Homo sapiens: one gene and its partners. The protein of the gene in region 3 purifies or fractionates together with the protein of the main gene of each other region. This does not show direct contact. Each region holds a gene or a part of one and is shown on either strand. Other genes may lie near its edges.

Region 1 (4,144 bases), on a different chromosome or scaffold from region 3:
AACACTTTGTGAGGCCAAGGCAGGAGGATTGCTTGAGCCCAGGAGTTCAAGGTGTCAGTGAGCTATGATGATCCCACTGTACTTCAGCCTAGGCAACCGAGCAAGACCTTTCATCTATGAAAATGCAAATACAAATAAATAAATAATTATTCTAAATCTATAGATTTAGAAAATGTGCTCTATAAATAGAATAACAAAGCCTGGGTAACTGTTTACAATATGGTTTCTTGAATATTTTAAGTCCACTATTAAGAACTACTGCTCAGAAAAAAAATATTTCTTTCTGAATATTACTTCTGGTTGATAACACACCTGTATTAGTCCATTCTTATGCTGCTAATAAAGACATACCCGAGACTAGGAAATTTGTAAAGAAAAAGAGGTTTAATGGACTCACAGTTCCGCATGGCTGGGGAGGCCTCACAATCATGATGGAAGGCACATCTCACATGGTGGCAGGCAAGAGGACATACTCAGGGGAACTCCCCTTTATAAAACCATCATGTCTCGTGAGACTTGCTATCATGAGAACAGCATGGGAAAGACCGGCACCTATGATTCAATTACCTCCCAATGGCTCCCTCCCATGACATGTGGGAATTATGGGAGCTACAATTCAAGATGAGATTTGGGTGGGGACACAGCCAAACAATATCATACGTGGTCACCCAAGAGTTCTGATGGAGATGTACAAAGAGATTAACATTGCTCACACGTCTACTAACACAACATCCACTCTTCAGCTTGTGGATCAGGGAGTAATTTTGACTTTCAAGTCGTATTATTTAAGAAATACATCTCATAAGAAAACAGCTGCCATAGATAGTGATTTTTTTGTTGGAACTAGGCAAAATAAATTGAAAACATTCTGGAAAGGATTCACCATTCTAGATGTCATTAAGAACATTCGTAATTCATGGGAGGTGGTCAAAATATCAACATTAACAGGAGTTTGGAAGATGTGGACTCCAACCCTCCTGAATGAGTTTGAGGTGTCCAAGATGTCAGTGGAGGAAATGAAGTGCAGATGTGGTAGAAACAGCAAAAGAAGCAGAAGTGGAGCCTGAAGATGTAACTAAATTTATGACATTTTAATCTCATGCTAAAACTTGAATGAATGAGGTGTTGCTTCTTATGGATGAGCAAAGAGTGGTTTCTTGAGATGGAATCTACTCCCAGTGAAGATGTTCACAGCACTGTGTAAATGACAACAAAGGATTTAGAATTATATAAATTTAGTCGATAAAGCAGTGGCAGGGCTTGAGAGGATTGATTCCAATATTGAAAGAAGTTCTATCGCAGACAAAATGCTACCAAACAGCATTACAGGCTATATATAAATCTTCTTGAAAGGAATAGTCAATCTATGTGACAAACTTCCTCGTTGTCTTACTTTAATAAATTGCCACAGCCACCTCAGCCTTCGGCAACCACCATTCGGATCAGTCAGCAGCCATCGACATCCAGGCAAGACCCTCCACCAGTAAAACACTTACCACTCAGTGAAGGCACAAATGATCGTTAGCAATTTTTAGCAAAAAGTATCTTTTACATAAAGGTATGTACCTTTTCTTAGATAGCATGCTATTGCACATTTAACAAACTACAGTATAGTATAAACATAACTTTTATATGCACTAGAAAACCAAAAAACGTGTGTGACTCGCTGTATTCCAATATTCACTTCTTTGGGGTGATCTGGAACTGAACCCACACTATCTCCAAGGTATGCCTGTATAAGAGACTGGACCTGCTGCTGTTTGACAGAAGGAAGAATGGTTCTTTTATCATTTTATAACAAAATGCCATACTTCCTTTATAAAGTAAGAATTTATCTTCCATGCAATATCAATAAAAGTAATGTGATTATATTCATTTTTCTAGAGCTTCATCCCTTGCTTCCTTTTCTCTTCTTATCCTCATTTATTTTCTTTCATCTATTTTTAATTTACATTATCTTGTTGCATTTCAAGTATCCATATAAACTGCCTTATGTACTTCCTGAAACAAGATAAAATTATATAAATGTTCTGTGAGCAAAGTATAATGTAAGGTATAAAGTATAATGTAAAGTATAATGTATAATGTAGAATGTATACTTATAATGTAAGTATAAAGTATAATGTAAAGTATAATGACATTTTCATTTAAAGGACTTTGCAAACAGTAGGGTTAATCTGATATTTATTGCTTTATTTCATTCATGGACATCTGAGACTCTTCTTGAGTGGATATAAAAAATAGTTATTATAGTAAACTGAATGATGGCCCCTAAATATATCCTAATTCCTGGAACCTGGAAATGTTACCTTTTGCAGGTGTGATTAAGTTAAAGGTCTTGAGAGAGAGAGAGATTATCCTGGATTATCTAGGTAGGTGCTAAATGAAATCACAAGTGTCCTTATAAGAGAGAGGCAGAGGGAGGTTTGATGCGAACAGAACAGAAAGCAGCATAACCACGGAGACAGAGAGATTGGAGTGATGCAGCCCAAGAATGTCGGCAGCCACCAGGAACTGAAAGAGGGAAAGACGATTTCTTTCTTAGAGCCTCCAGAGGAAGGACAGCGCTGCCGACACCTTGATTTCAGCCTAGTGATAGTGCCTTTGGAATTCTAACCGCCAAACAATGAGACAGCACATGTTAATTGTTTTAGGCCACGAAGTTTGTGGTAATTTTTACAGTGGCCTTGAGAAACTAACATAGTTATTAATTTGAATATATGCAAATGTTAAAAGGAGACAGTTTTCCTTGTAACATTAAAGACGTTGGGAAAGGTGAAAACAACAAAGTTATTTCCATTTAGAATAATAAAATATTGAAGGGTAGTTTAAAAGGATCAGGAAGTTTTTATTTTAAAGGACTACTGTATGTTTCGGGAAAATGCTACATTTCCAACCCAATTCCCTCTCTAACATATCAGTTGTCTTAAAGCAAAATTATCTGGTACCAGAGGAAAGCAAATAGGAATGCCATTCTCCTGTGGACATCTCTCTCCACGTTGTTCTCCAGCCCTCCTCAGTGAACAGCTCCACCCATAATCCCACTTCCTGTTTAGTGTCCTACCACCTCCCCTGAGAGTCCTCTTGTTTTGCTGGAAGTAATCTATTATTTTACAAAGTCAAAGAACATATTTGCATAATTTCACTTATGGGAAAGTTTCTAGTGCAGTAAGTTGCTGCACTTACTGAGCTATATGGGCGAATCATGTCCATAACACCTTGGTGTCTTCCTGGACAATATGAGGTACAACTCATCAGCAACTGCCTGCTTAATCTCACTTATCTTTACCTGTCTCTAGATTAGCAGGCAGAAAGACAAGCCATCTCCACTCTAGGTAATTCTAAAATAAACTGTGCTGAAGGTGGAAACTTACACTTTAAAAATCACAGAACTGTCTTATCTAGAATCTAAGAGGCAAATCATTCATTTAGCCAGAAAAAATGTGCAAGTGGAAAAAAGATTTCCCTTTAATATATGCTATAAACAGTTTGTGAGAAGTTTTTTCTTAAATAACTCAATATCTCTGCTTTATAAATAACAAAAAGTCTGAAAATGAAAATCTTAAAATGCTAGGCAAATAAAGATTTAAGAGGTAATTATCCTCCATTTGATTGTACAAGTAGGAAGCTGGTCATCCTTGACACTGCCCTCCTTCACATTCAATCCAATTTTGACTTTTCTTAAGTTTTTTTGTTGTTATTCTCTTTTTGTTTATCTGTTTTTGAGACAGAGTCTTGCCCTCTCGCCCAAGCTGGGGTGCAGTGATGTAATCACAGCTCACGGCTGCCTCCACCTGCTGGGCTCAGGTGATCCTCCCACCTCAACCTCCCAAATAGCTGGGATACAGGCACGCACCACCACACCCAGCTAATTTTTGTATTTTTTGTGGAGACAGCGTTTCACCATGTTGCCCAGGCTGATCTCAAACTCCTGGGCTCAAAAAATCTGTCTCCTCCAGCCTCCCAAAGTGCTGGAATTACAGGTGTGGCTGGCCTTTTTTGTATCTCTCTCTTTTTTTTTTTTTTTTTGAGACAAGGTCTCACTCTTGTCCAGACTAGAGTGCAATGCTGGGATTTTGGCTCACTGTAGCCACAAACTTCTGACCTCAAGCAATCCTCCCACTCCAGCCTTCCAAGTAGCTAG
Region 2 (4,144 bases), on a different chromosome or scaffold from region 3:
GATTGCTTGAGCCCAGGAGTTTGAAGCTGCAGTGAGCTCTGATTGCACCACTGCACTCCAGTGTGGGCAACAGAGCAAGACCCTGTCTCTATAAAAAAAAAATTAATTAAAAATTTAAAAAAGAAACTGCCAAACTATTTTTCAAAGTGGCTATGCCATTTTGCCTACCAGCAGTATATGAGAGATACAGTTGCTCTGCATCCTCACATCACTTGCTTGGTATTGTCAGGTTAATTTGTTTTTAAGAGACAGGGTCTGCTCAGTCTCCCAGGTTGGAGTACAGTGGCATGATCATGGCTCACTGCAGCCTGGACTGCCTGGGCTCCAGCAATCTTCCCACTTCAGCCTCCCAAGTAGCTAGGACTACACTACATGTGTCTGCCACCACACTCGGCTAATATTTTTATTTTTTGTAGAGACAAGGTCTGGCTGTGTTGCTCAGGCTGGTCTGAAACTCCTGGCTTCAAGCGATCGTCCCACCTTGGCCTCCCAAAGTGCTGGCATTACAGCTGTGAGCTACTGCACCTCGCCTAGCTTTAAAAAAAAATGTTTAGCCATTCTAATAGGTGTGTAGTGATGTTTCATTGTAGTTTAACTTGCATTTCCCAAATGACTTGTATTTACCTAAATGTTGAGCATTTTTCATGTACTTATTTGCCATCCATATATCTTTGGTAAAATGTTTATTCAAATCATTTGCCCATTTTTTTATTGGGTTATTTGTTTTCTTATTATTGAGTTTTTCAGAGCTCTTTATATGTCCTGGATACAAGTCCCCTGTTATATATATGTTTTGCAAATACTTTTTTCCCAGTTAATAACTTGCCTTCTCTTAAGAGTGTCTTTTGAAGAGCAAACATTTTCAATTTGAGTAAAAGTCCAATTTCCACTCACTTTTTCTTTTGTGGATTGTGTTTTTGGTTTCACATCTAGGAATTTTTTTTCTTTTTCTGAGACGGAGTCTTGCTGTGTCGCCAGGTTGGAGTACAGTGGCGCGATCTCGGTTCACTGCACTATATGTATATGTATGTATGTATGTATGTATATACACATACACCATATATATGTGTGTATATATATACATACATATACAAAACAATTGCTTACTAGATGCACAAATCAATGGAATAGAGAGTTCATAAACAGGCATATCTCTCTTTACATATATATATCTATATCGATCACACTATATATATGTGTGTGTGTATATATACACACATATATGTGTGTGTGTATATACACACATATGTGTGTGTGTATATACACACATGTGTGTGTGTACATACACACATGTGTGTGTGTATATATATACACACATATATGTGTATATGTGTATATATGTGTGTATATATGTGTATATATGTGTGTGTATATATATACACGCATATATATGCGTATATACATATATATGGACTCATATATGTGTATATACATATATATATATATATATATATATATATGGACTCACAGTGTGTCCTTGGACAAGTTATATAGTCTCTGTGTGCCTCAATTTTCTCAAGTATAAAACAGAGATAATTATAGTACACAACCCTTATGGGGTTTTTATGGATTGAGTGAATGATTATAGAGCACTTAGTATGGTGCCTGGTACATATATAGTGCTTCTTATACTCCTGAATCTTTTTACTTCTATTCAGACTGGATTTTCATTGGAATTAACAAATCCCATTATTTTATCTCACATTATCATTATGGAAATTTAACTGTGGAGATGAATTTTAATGAAAAATTTGTATTGCCGCTTAGTAAGATAATAAGATGTTCATTTTTGTTTTCTGTTAGGAAAATAATGCTTAACTTGGTTTAATAGCTGTAGGACATTAAATTGATATCAGACGAATTACAACTCTTGAAATTTTTCTTTGATTTTTTTTTTTTTTTTTGAGACAGAATTTGGCTCTTGTCTTCCACGCTGCAGTGCAGTGGTGCGATCTCGGCTCACTGCAACTCTGCCTCCTGGGTTCAAGCGATTCTCCTGCCTCAGCCTCCCAAGTAGCTGGAATTACAGGCGCCCACCACCATGCCCAGCTAAGTTTTGTATTTTTAGTAGAGACGGGGTTTCACCATGTTGGCCAGGCTGGTCTGGAACTCCTGACCTCAGGTGATCCACCCGCCTCGGCCTCCCAATGTGCTGGGATTACAGGCGTGAGCCACCACGCCTGGCCACTTTCCTTGATTTTTTAAAGTATATCCATTACCTTTTAAGGATTGTAGTAAGAAATAGTCTAGGCCAGACACGGTGGCGCATGCCTGTAATTCCAGCACTTTGGGAGGCTGAGGTGGGTGGATCGCTTGAGTCCAGGAGTTCGAGACCAGCCTGGACAACATGGCGAAACCCCATCTCTACAGAAAATACAAAAATTAGTTGTGCATGGTGGTGTGCACTTGTAGTCCCAGCTACTCAGGAGACTGAGGCGGGGAGGATTGCTTGAACGGTGGAGGTCGAGGCTGCAGTGAGCTGTGAGTGTGCCACTGCACTCCAACCTGGGCAACAGAGTGAGACCCTGTGTCAGAAAAAAAAAATACAGTCTAAACTAAACTCACTTCATAAGTGGCTCTTAGGAAAAAATAATTTAAAACATGACCTTTCCATGTTTGTGATTCTAGACACTTTATTTCAGAACTAGTAACCTGCAAAATTACGAAGGATTTCAGTTTCAGTTGTTTATTATTACTTTTTTTTTTTTAAAGTGTCAGGGTCTTGCTTTGTCACCCAGGCTGGAGTGCAGTGGCATGATCATGGCTCACTGCAGCCTTGAACTCCCAGGCACAAGCAGTCCTCCTGCCTCAGCCTTCTGAGTAGCTAGGACTACAGGCGCACACCACCATGCCCAGCTAAGGGTTTTTGTGTTTTTTTACCCCCCTTCCACCAACTCACTTCAAATAATCTGCTAAGTTTTAAAAAACTTTTTTAGAGCTAGGGGAGTGTCACTGTGTCACCCAGGCCAGTCTCAAACTCCTAGTCTCACTAGGCCACTGGCCCACTCTCAAGTAGCTGGGATTACAGATGTGAGCCACTGTGTCTAGCTCCTAATGCTTTTTGTTTTGAAAAACTTTCAGGAATTGTTGAGAAAGTACAGCAACATAAATCTTAAATTTCTCCTTGGAAGGCCGTGCTGACAATCCAACTAATTTTATACTACAGAACTATTTAGCTATAAAATCTTTAGCTATCAGATTAATTTCTCCCTATGAGCTAGGAAAAGTGGAGCGTCCAGAGAAAATACTTAGGGTAGTAAATTACATTTAACTCCTCAGCATTGGCAGCTGTTATGGACTGAATGTTTGTCAAATTCATATGTTGAAGCCCTACCCCCCTACACATGGCTGTATTTGGAGATGGGACCTCTAAGGAAGTAATTAAGGTTAAGTGAGGTCATAAAGGTAGAGTGCTGATCTGATAGGATTAGTGTCCTTATAAGAAGATTCAGTTAGCTTGCACTTGCTCCCTCCCTCTCCTTCACACAGAGGACAGGTCTGGTGATGACATAGCAAGAGGTTGGCTTTTGCAGTCTGAGCAGACTAAAACAGGCTGCCATAACAAAATACCACAGACTGGTGGCTTAAATAACAGAAGTTTATTTCTCACAGCTCTAGAGCCTGGGAAGTCCAAGATCAAGGTGCTAGCAGATTCAGTGTCTGGTGAGGGCTCTCTTCCTGGCTTACAGACAGCTGCCTTCTTGCTGTGTCCTCACATGGCCTTTCCTCTGTGATTCATCCTTCTGCCTTACCTCCTACAGCCATTGAATTACCAGTCTGCTGATTCTGTTTCCTCAGTATTTCTCAAATTCATCCCATCTTCTTCTTCCCTACTAATTACAGCTCTGGTTCCAGCCCTTTCTGTATGACTACAATAGTCTCTCCGATCAATCCATGTTGCATGTGTCCTTATCTCATCAGAGTAATTATCCTGACATGTAAATTTTGCTTATTTAAATCTTTCTGTGGTTCCCTCTTGTCTGTGGATAACTTCTAAGCTTTATATAATACGGTTTCTGCCTACCTCTGTAGCTTCATCTACTAGCATTCTGATAGCATGTGTAACACCAAACTACTTTCAGTTTTCCTCCTACTCCCTGAAGAATTTTACTTTGTTCCGTCTGTTACTTTTGCCTGGCATGGG
Region 3 (4,144 bases):
TTTCTTCCTACTGATTTGTAAAAGTTATTTATATAAAAGTTTTTTTTTTCTTTTTCCTTTAGAAGTGAAATCAAGGCTTAATTTATCTGGTTAAGTTTTATAATTTTCATTTTTTTTTTTTTTTTTTAAGAGACAGGGTCTTGTTCTGTCATCCAGGCTGGAGCGCAGCAGCACGATTGTAGCTCACTGCAGTCTCCAATTCCTGGGCTCAAGCAATCTTCATGCTTCAGCTTTCCTAATAGCTAGGACTGCAGGCATGTGTCACCAGGCCATGCTTTTATAATTTTTTGTAGAAATGGGATCTATGTTGCGCAGGCTGTCTTGCACTCCTGGCCTCAAGTGATCCTCCTGCCTGGGCCTCCCAAACCACTGGAATTGCAAGTGTGAGCCACGACACCTGGCCTATCTGCTGGTTAAGTTCTTTAAACAGACCAGGTAAAATGGAGGTTTTAATATCTAGATTCTCATGTATATCTGTGTAGTTTTATTAATGTCCTCTCCTCTTGTTCCTCATTGCTCTTTCATAGTAGTAACAAGAGAAAGCTCACTTCAGTCATTTCAAATCCAAATGTAACAATGCAGAATTAAAAAATGGAAACAAGCTCTTGGAATTAATCATTTATCACAAAATGAACAATTTCAATTCTTAAACATACAATCACTTTTTTTCATACTAACTCAAAATGAGTAAACAGAATTTTATTCAAACTTTACAAATATCATTTACATTTAGCCTGAGATTAAACATGAGAAAGTTCAACCTGAAGTTAGACTTCGTTGCCCAGTTAAGCATCTGAAAATAAAGCTGAGAATGAACATACATCATCAAACAAAGCATTCCAATGAAGTCTGGCAATGAATTGTGACACAAACTGAACTTTAATTTGCTCTGGTCCACATGATCTTCAGAGCCTAAAAGTTCCTGTTTTTTAATAATGATGGAAAAATATCTGCAAATGATAAATGCATGAAGGTATGACCAGATGCAAAATTTTAGTTCAACATTTCTATAGCAGCTGCTTTAGGTGACCATTAAAAAACAACTCCCCAATCCTTACTGTTCAACATGTACTTGAAAACATGCAGCAGCATGGTACAGTTTATTAAATTTATAAATATCAGTACCTGTAATAAAATATAAAATACTGACTATTCCTTTTTCAAATATTAAGTCTCTGAATGCTTCATTCATCCTTTGGTTTCAAACCCATACAATGCACTCATATTACATTGTAGATTTCGAATGGAGACAGAACACTGTACATCTGTTGGGGAAGGTGGGGTGCTGTAGGAATACCAAAGCACTACATCATAGAAAGTAAACGTTGAAGCAAAAATACTTTCTGAATATATACTGTACATTATGTAAACACACATTCAGAATAAGAATCAACACAGGCCAAAATATTGTTTTCTAGGAAACCAGAATCTTCTTTCTTTTAAATCACACACTGAAGATGCTTTTTTGTTAAGAAAAAGAATGAAGTCTGTTCCTGTATTTGCTTATGTGCTTAGATATCTTGGAAATGAGTAATTATTACATTCATTTGCTAACGGTTTATCCTCTGCTTAGTTGGCTGGCTGTTGCAAACACGGAATACAGAACTATTTCAGTCCCTGTTTTTCATTTAATACTAGTTAAGTAATATATAATTAATTCATCTTTATTAATCCATTATTAGTAATATAAATAGATTAAGTGAAGCAGTGAATTTCAAAATTTGTGCAGGGGAAACTAGTTGATAATTTGTTTCCAATAAGGCTGGTAGCAATTAATTACTACAAAGTTTGTCCAAGCTAGTATTGAACCCCTGATTTAGCAGGCTGAATCAAAGTGTATAGTTAGGTACTTCTAATTCCTCTATTACTGTGCAAATCTAGAATTTCCTATGTAAAAGACAGTGCTGGCAGCATCAAAGCCCTGTAATAGTATGAAATAGTGATTAGGATTTGAAATGAAGAGATATTATATGAAGACATGTGAATGTCTTAATGATGGTATCATAGCAACGGCCTCAGAATTCCCTTACTGAAACAGAAACTAAGACAAATCATTATTCAATAATCTTCTGAGCCAAAAGCCTAAGTTGGAAGCAAGTGATAAAAACACAAAACCAAAGATGCATTTTCTATGACCATATGCAAGAATTTTAAGCTTTATATCAACATTCTGTACCAGCACCAGCCCCTCTGAAAGGAAAAAGTGTAGTCATGACTGTCCATCTCTTTTCAAAGCTTCCAGTCTTTGAAGCAGTGCGTTTCCAAATGCTTCTCGGTAGGCGGGGCTGAGTGTATCCAACAAGGAGTAGACTGTTTCATGGTAGGGAGTCTGTAAATGATCATCTACCTGGTCAAAAGCATAGCCTACCACCTACAAGAGAAATGCAACAGTGAATTCATTAGTTTTCATGTTGGTACAGAAAGCAAAATCCAAGTGTTTATGTGAGTAATCATCCTTTCAAAAAAATAAATTATTTCTTTTCCTAGCCACTAGACCACCAGATACATGGGTAACTGAGTGAAACTATTTCTCAAAGTCAGAGTATACACATTTTAAATACAACCTTTAATACTTCAGCAACTTATAATGTATAACACAGAAACACCACTAAAATGCTCCCTATAGAATTTTCAACATTTAAAAGGTTTTACTTAGAAGCTCAAGGAAATGCAGAGAAAGAATTTGAAAAGCTACACAAAAATGGTATTTCATTTTCATATTCTAAAACATGCATCTATTATTTACCCCATTTAATTCCACATATATTGAGGGTCCACTATATTAAGTACTATAATAGGTAATATATCATTAGTTCATATTTTTTTCATTATTTTTCACTTCTTTTATAAACAATTCTAAAAATTATTCCTAATAATTTAGTTTTAATAATTAGTTGTTAATTTTAATAATTGTTTATTAATAATTGGTTTAATAGTTTATTAGTTTTAATAACTGTTTAGCTTTATTATTAGTAATCTGAAAGGCCACTTTCACCTAATATATTTCTTACCTGACAGGGAATAAATGCTCAATTCTGTGAGATAAAAGAACATGTTAATGTGTTTTTTTTTTCTTGGTAGGGGTACACTATTTCTGGAGGTATTTGCAATACCAGGTCGATGTGTGAAGTTAATGGAGCAAGAGCCTATTCTATCTCCCTGCTCCAAAAATCCATTTAATATATTGTCCTTAGATAGAGGACATAACAGATATTAAACTGATAAGAAAAGATACTCCAATTGATCTTAGGCAAAAGGCTGACAGGCCATGTGTTTTTCTTTTTTTTTTTTTCCTGTGAACACAGCTACAACTTTTCTTTTTGACAAGATTATAAGGTATATCATGGTTCACCAGCACAATATAGGGCAAAATTAATTTAGTTTTTGCTGACTTAAGTGTGTACATTCCCTATATAAATCCTAAATTTTTATGACATCTATTTAAGCCATAGGAGGTGAAAGTTTGTGTTAGAAATAGAAGCTGAGTTTTTTTTTTTTTAAATGAAAAGCAGAGGCAGACACCTAAGGAAAATGAATCACACCTCTTCAGATCCATGCTCTATTACTGCACTCTCTACAGTGGAGTACAGTTCAGTTTGCCTTCTTCCTCTTATCTCTGCTAGACTGTGATCTTCCTGGTGGACAGGGATCATGTCTTATGCATGGTTTGATTTTCAATTGCTGACACAGGATAGTTGCTCAATAAATGTTAACTGAATCAGACTGAAAAACAAACAAATATTTGAGCACCTACTACATGTCAGGTTTTACATATGGTTCAGATCTTTCTGTATCATACAGTCATATAATCATTCCCCAAATCGTTTTAAGTTTTTTTTAAATCTCCAAGTTATAGATTAAGAAGCAGAAACTCTCTCAGGGGTAGACGGACTCACTCAAGATCACTTAAATTCACATTTAAGACTGCTGACTCTCTGATCAGAACTCCTTCTACCTCTCCACAGTCAACTTAGAATTAACCAACACAAGACAGAATTATCTTACTAATTCTGTCATTTATCTCTACTTCTGATTTAAGATTCACCTCTAAATACTCTGAGCTTTTAGTACAAATTTAAGGATGTGAAAAGAAGTGCACAAAAATTAGTTAATTCAGGTACTATGCTTAAAGCTAAGCAGCTAT
Region 4 (4,144 bases), on a different chromosome or scaffold from region 3:
GAGAAGGATAAAGATTTTACATCAAATCATGAATTCCAGTTCTCAAAATTGAGTTCTAATGTGTTTACAACTACAATATCCCATCATTATAGAAGGCAAATTAGGTAGAAATTTTACAAAATCAAAGCTTTGTTCTGCTATTCTAATTAAGTTTTATTTGTGTTTCATTCTATGGGCATATTAAGAGAGAAATAACACAGCATGAACAATGCAAAAAGTAAAATATCAACCCAGATGGAAAGAATAAATGGTACTAATAAAAAGAACATTCAGAATGAATATATTTATAGAGTATAGAAAAGTACTAAATACAGTACCTACATTAGGAGGGGTCAAATCTGCATTTCATGAAGCAAAACAGGAAAGTATTATATATTATGAGACAGATAACGATAGACCACACAAAAGACAAATAACGAACACTGTAATTTTTTTCATGTACACTAAAAACCTTAAAAAGAGAACAATACTAGAGTCAAACTGGACCTTTCAAAGGAGAAAAACACCTACAAATAATTATTTTATTCTAATAGATAATTCATTGTCCATGTTGGTGGTAGAGCTGTTATGTGATCATTTATGAGAATATTTTAAATGTATGATAGTTTTCACTAACCTCTTATGGAGAAATAAAAGATTTACCCCAGCATTCTCTTTTAACCAAAACCAGCAACCACCTTCCATAATTTTAATTTTTCAATAGATACACATACCTACACACACTAAATTGCATTTCCCACCACAATCCCCTATCTCTGACAGTGAAGTAAGACAATACCATAAGAAGATAAATATAGCAAGTCAATTAAAGGCAGAAAGAACGCACCTTCCAGTAAATTCATATCGATGTCATTATTATTCGGCTTGTGCAGGCACGGGTATGTGTTAAACAAATTAGCTACAAAAGCTAAATTAAGTTTAGGATTGCCTGAAACCACATCTGCAGGAGTAACAAACTGTTTGCAGCCCAGTTTATCTGCTTCTTGAAGCATGAGTCCAGCACGCTTCAGGTCATTTGTCTCCTAAACAATAAAACAAAAATGGTTACAATTGAAGTTTTAATTGGCATAATTTTTATTGGTATACATGTTTATAAGCAATTACTTTTCCACAAATATATCAAATAATAACTCAAAATAAGATCAAAATGTGTAGTAATTCCAAGTCAACTTACCCATTCCTTTATTTATTTATTTATTTATTTATTTATGTATTTAGAGACAGAGTCTTGCTCTGTTCCCCAGGCTGGAGTGCAGTGGCGTGATCTTGGCTCACTGCAACCTCTGCCTCTTAGGTTCAAGTGATTCTCCTCCCTCAGCCCCTGAGTAGCTGGGATTACAGACACATGCCACTATGCCCAGCTAATTTTTGTATTTTTAGTAAAGACAGGGTTTTGCCATGTTGGCCAGGCTGGTTTCGAACTCCTGATCCGCCCACCTCGGCCTCCCAAAGTGCTGGGATTATAGCCGTGAGCCACTAAGCCCAGCCCCCGTGCCTTTTAAGTTAAAAGGAAAAAAGTCTCTGAATTTCCTTGCTGGGATAACTGAGTTATATTTTACCCTTTTTGCTAAAATACTCAGCAAAATCCTCAAATATTGTATCAGTAAGCTCCTACTGGTTGCACTATAGATAACTTATTCAAGACCAGCTAGTAGAGTGCCCTCTGGATAACAGGCATAGTTATCATACCCACTGTACACTGAGTGACATTTCCAGAAGGCTCTTCTTGATGAAAAACAAGTTGAAATACATATTTTAAAAATTAAAATCATAGGGAAAAGCACCTTTCACAATTGCAAAACCCTGGAAACAAATGAAACAACCCAAATACCTATAAACAGGAGAGTAGATGAATGAATTTGTATATTCACACAATGACATCCAATATGGGTAACTCTTAGAGATACAAGGCCAAAAAGAAGTACTAGAAATTTAAGTATAACATGATAAACTTTAAAGGAAGTTAAAAAGTAAAATGAAGAATTTAATTTTGTAAGGGATACATTTGGATGAAGGGAAACTACATAAAAAGAAAAGCAGAACAACAATGAACACAAGATTCAAGACTGTGGTTACCACACTGGGCGAAAACCGAGGTGGGATAGGGAAGAACTGTACAGAAAATGTCACGTCAAAGTTTTAGTTTTCCTGTTAGATTGAGAGTTCATGAGGCTTGTTACAATTTCAAAACAAACAACCACACACAAAAATAAATTTAAAAATGGGTATGCACAGACCCATATGAGTATATCATGACCAAAGATAACCTACCTAATTCTGTGCACCAGAGTTGCAAAATAATTAATCATATAAATGAAATCAGAGAAAGCAACAGATTATTAAATTAACAAAGAAAAGTTACCATTGTAGACATCAAAAAATGACAATATGTGGCTGGACGTGGTGGCTCATGCCTGTAATCCCAGCACTTTGGGAGGCAGAGGCAGGCGGATCACTTGAGGTCAGGAGTTTGATACCAGCCTAGCCAACATGGTGAAACCCCGTCTCTACTAAAAACACAAAAATTAACCAGGTGTGGTGGTGTGCACCTGTAATCCCAGCTACTCAGGAAGTGGAGGTAGGAGAATCACTTGAGCCCAGGAGGCGGAGGTTGCCATGAGCCAAGATTGTGTCACTGCACTCCAGCCTGGGCGACAGAGCAAGACTCCATCTAAAAAAAAAAAAAAACAAACAAATAAAGACAACATGTGGACCTTATTTTAGATCCTAATTCAAATAAACTATGAAAAAAATGGCATTTATGAGGCAAGTGGAAATGTCAACATTGACTAGATATTTTGATGATGTTACAGATTGTTGTAATTTTTTTAAGGTATGATAAGGTATTGTGGTTTTATTTTAAAAGTGTCTTTGTCTTTTAGAAATATATATTGAAATATTTATCCATGAAGTAATGTCTAGGATTTGCTTCAAAATAATATAGGAGAGGAGAGAAATAGGGAATAAACGAGATAAGATTGACCATGAATTGGCAGATGTTGAAACTGAGGGATGAGTACCTGATAGTTTAGTATACTAAGTCTGTTCTCTTGAATATATTCAAAATTTTCCATAAGTTTAAGTTCCTAATTTTTTTACTTAAAATGATTTGCACATTTTACAGAGCGTTGCAATACTGTGTTTCTGAAATATGTCATTATAATAATGTGAGATATAATTAATTAGTAATGACTCAAGTTGCCTTTAAAACCAAATGTTACGGACGCCGCACTTTAAGTACGTGATATATTTTCATACAGTCTATTATCTGACCAAATTTTAATGTTTAGAATTCAAGTTTGTCCAACCCACGGCCGGTGGGTCACATGCGGCCCAGGACAGCTTTGAATGTGGCCCAACACAAATTTGTAAACTTTCTTAAAACACTAGATTTTTTTGCACCTTTTTTTTTTTTTTAGCTCATCAGCTATTGTTAGTGTTAGTGTATTTTATGTGTGGCCCAAGACAATTCTTCTTCTAATGTGGCCCAGGGAAGCCAAAAGACTGGACATCCTGATTTAGATAGAACCATCCCTGGTATTTATAACTTATGCTAAAAGAATGAGATTCCTAGGAAGTATGCTTGGTAGGTCAGAATCTGTATCAGTCCTTCCTACACCATGAATATCTATTTTTATTTTGTAGATTTCTAAATATAAGCTGGTAAAACTGATAATTGATTGCTTAAAAATCTAACAACAGGTTGTTGCTTCCTTTCCTGGCATATGCTGACAGTCAAAAGAGCACCCTGGTGAGTTCCAATTGCCTTGCACCAGGGAAACATGAATGTAGGATTGATTCCACAAATACTCCAGGTCACAATTACGCAGTTCCCTTTCTTCCGTCATGATAGCCAGTTGGCTTGACATGGAGGCTTGGAGCCTTGGGCATGGAAAAAACTTCCATAGAGCAAAGCACCAAACTTTAATGGAGGGCTGAGGGCTCTACTGGGGAATGCTGCTTGTAGAGAACTGTACTCTAAATTTGACTGTACCTGCTACTGAAATTCAAATTCATAGTCAAAAAGTAGAACAGTAGTTACCAGGGCCTGGGGGAAGGGGAAAATGGGGAGTTATTGTTTAATGAGTACAGAATTTCCCTACAGGATGATGAAAAGTTTGTAGAGATGGATAATGGTGATAGC

What was found.
Region 1: the proteins of GSKIP (region 3) and TPD52L1 purify together in Homo sapiens (affinity purification with mass spectrometry; one large-scale study listed by BioGRID and IntAct). This does not show direct contact.
Region 2: the proteins of GSKIP (region 3) and RP2 purify together in Homo sapiens (affinity purification with mass spectrometry; one large-scale study listed by BioGRID and IntAct). This does not show direct contact.
Region 4: the proteins of GSKIP (region 3) and PLS1 purify together in Homo sapiens (affinity purification with mass spectrometry; one large-scale study listed by BioGRID and IntAct). This does not show direct contact.

What each region holds. Positions count from the first base shown.
Region 1 is NC_000006.12:125,156,349-125,160,492, reverse strand, and holds part of TPD52L1 (tumor protein D53), read right to left. Parts: intron 1-4,144.
Region 2 is NC_000023.11:46,846,498-46,850,641, forward strand, and holds part of RP2 (protein XRP2), read left to right. Parts: intron 1-4,144. UniProt on the Homo sapiens protein: Acts as a GTPase-activating protein (GAP) involved in trafficking between the Golgi and the ciliary membrane.
Region 3 is NC_000014.9:96,383,750-96,387,893, reverse strand, and holds the end of GSKIP (GSK3B-interacting protein), read right to left. Parts: intron 3,271-4,144; exon of another isoform or gene 3,082-3,270; intron 2,372-3,081; coding exon 2,210-2,371; 3' UTR 606-2,209; downstream 1-605. UniProt on the Homo sapiens protein: A-kinase anchoring protein for GSK3B and PKA that regulates or facilitates their kinase activity towards their targets.
Region 4 is NC_000003.12:142,686,496-142,690,639, reverse strand, and holds part of PLS1 (plastin-1), read right to left. Parts: intron 1,023-4,144; coding exon 827-1,022; intron 1-826. UniProt on the Homo sapiens protein: Actin-bundling protein. In the inner ear, it is required for stereocilia formation. Mediates liquid packing of actin filaments that is necessary for stereocilia to grow to their proper dimensions.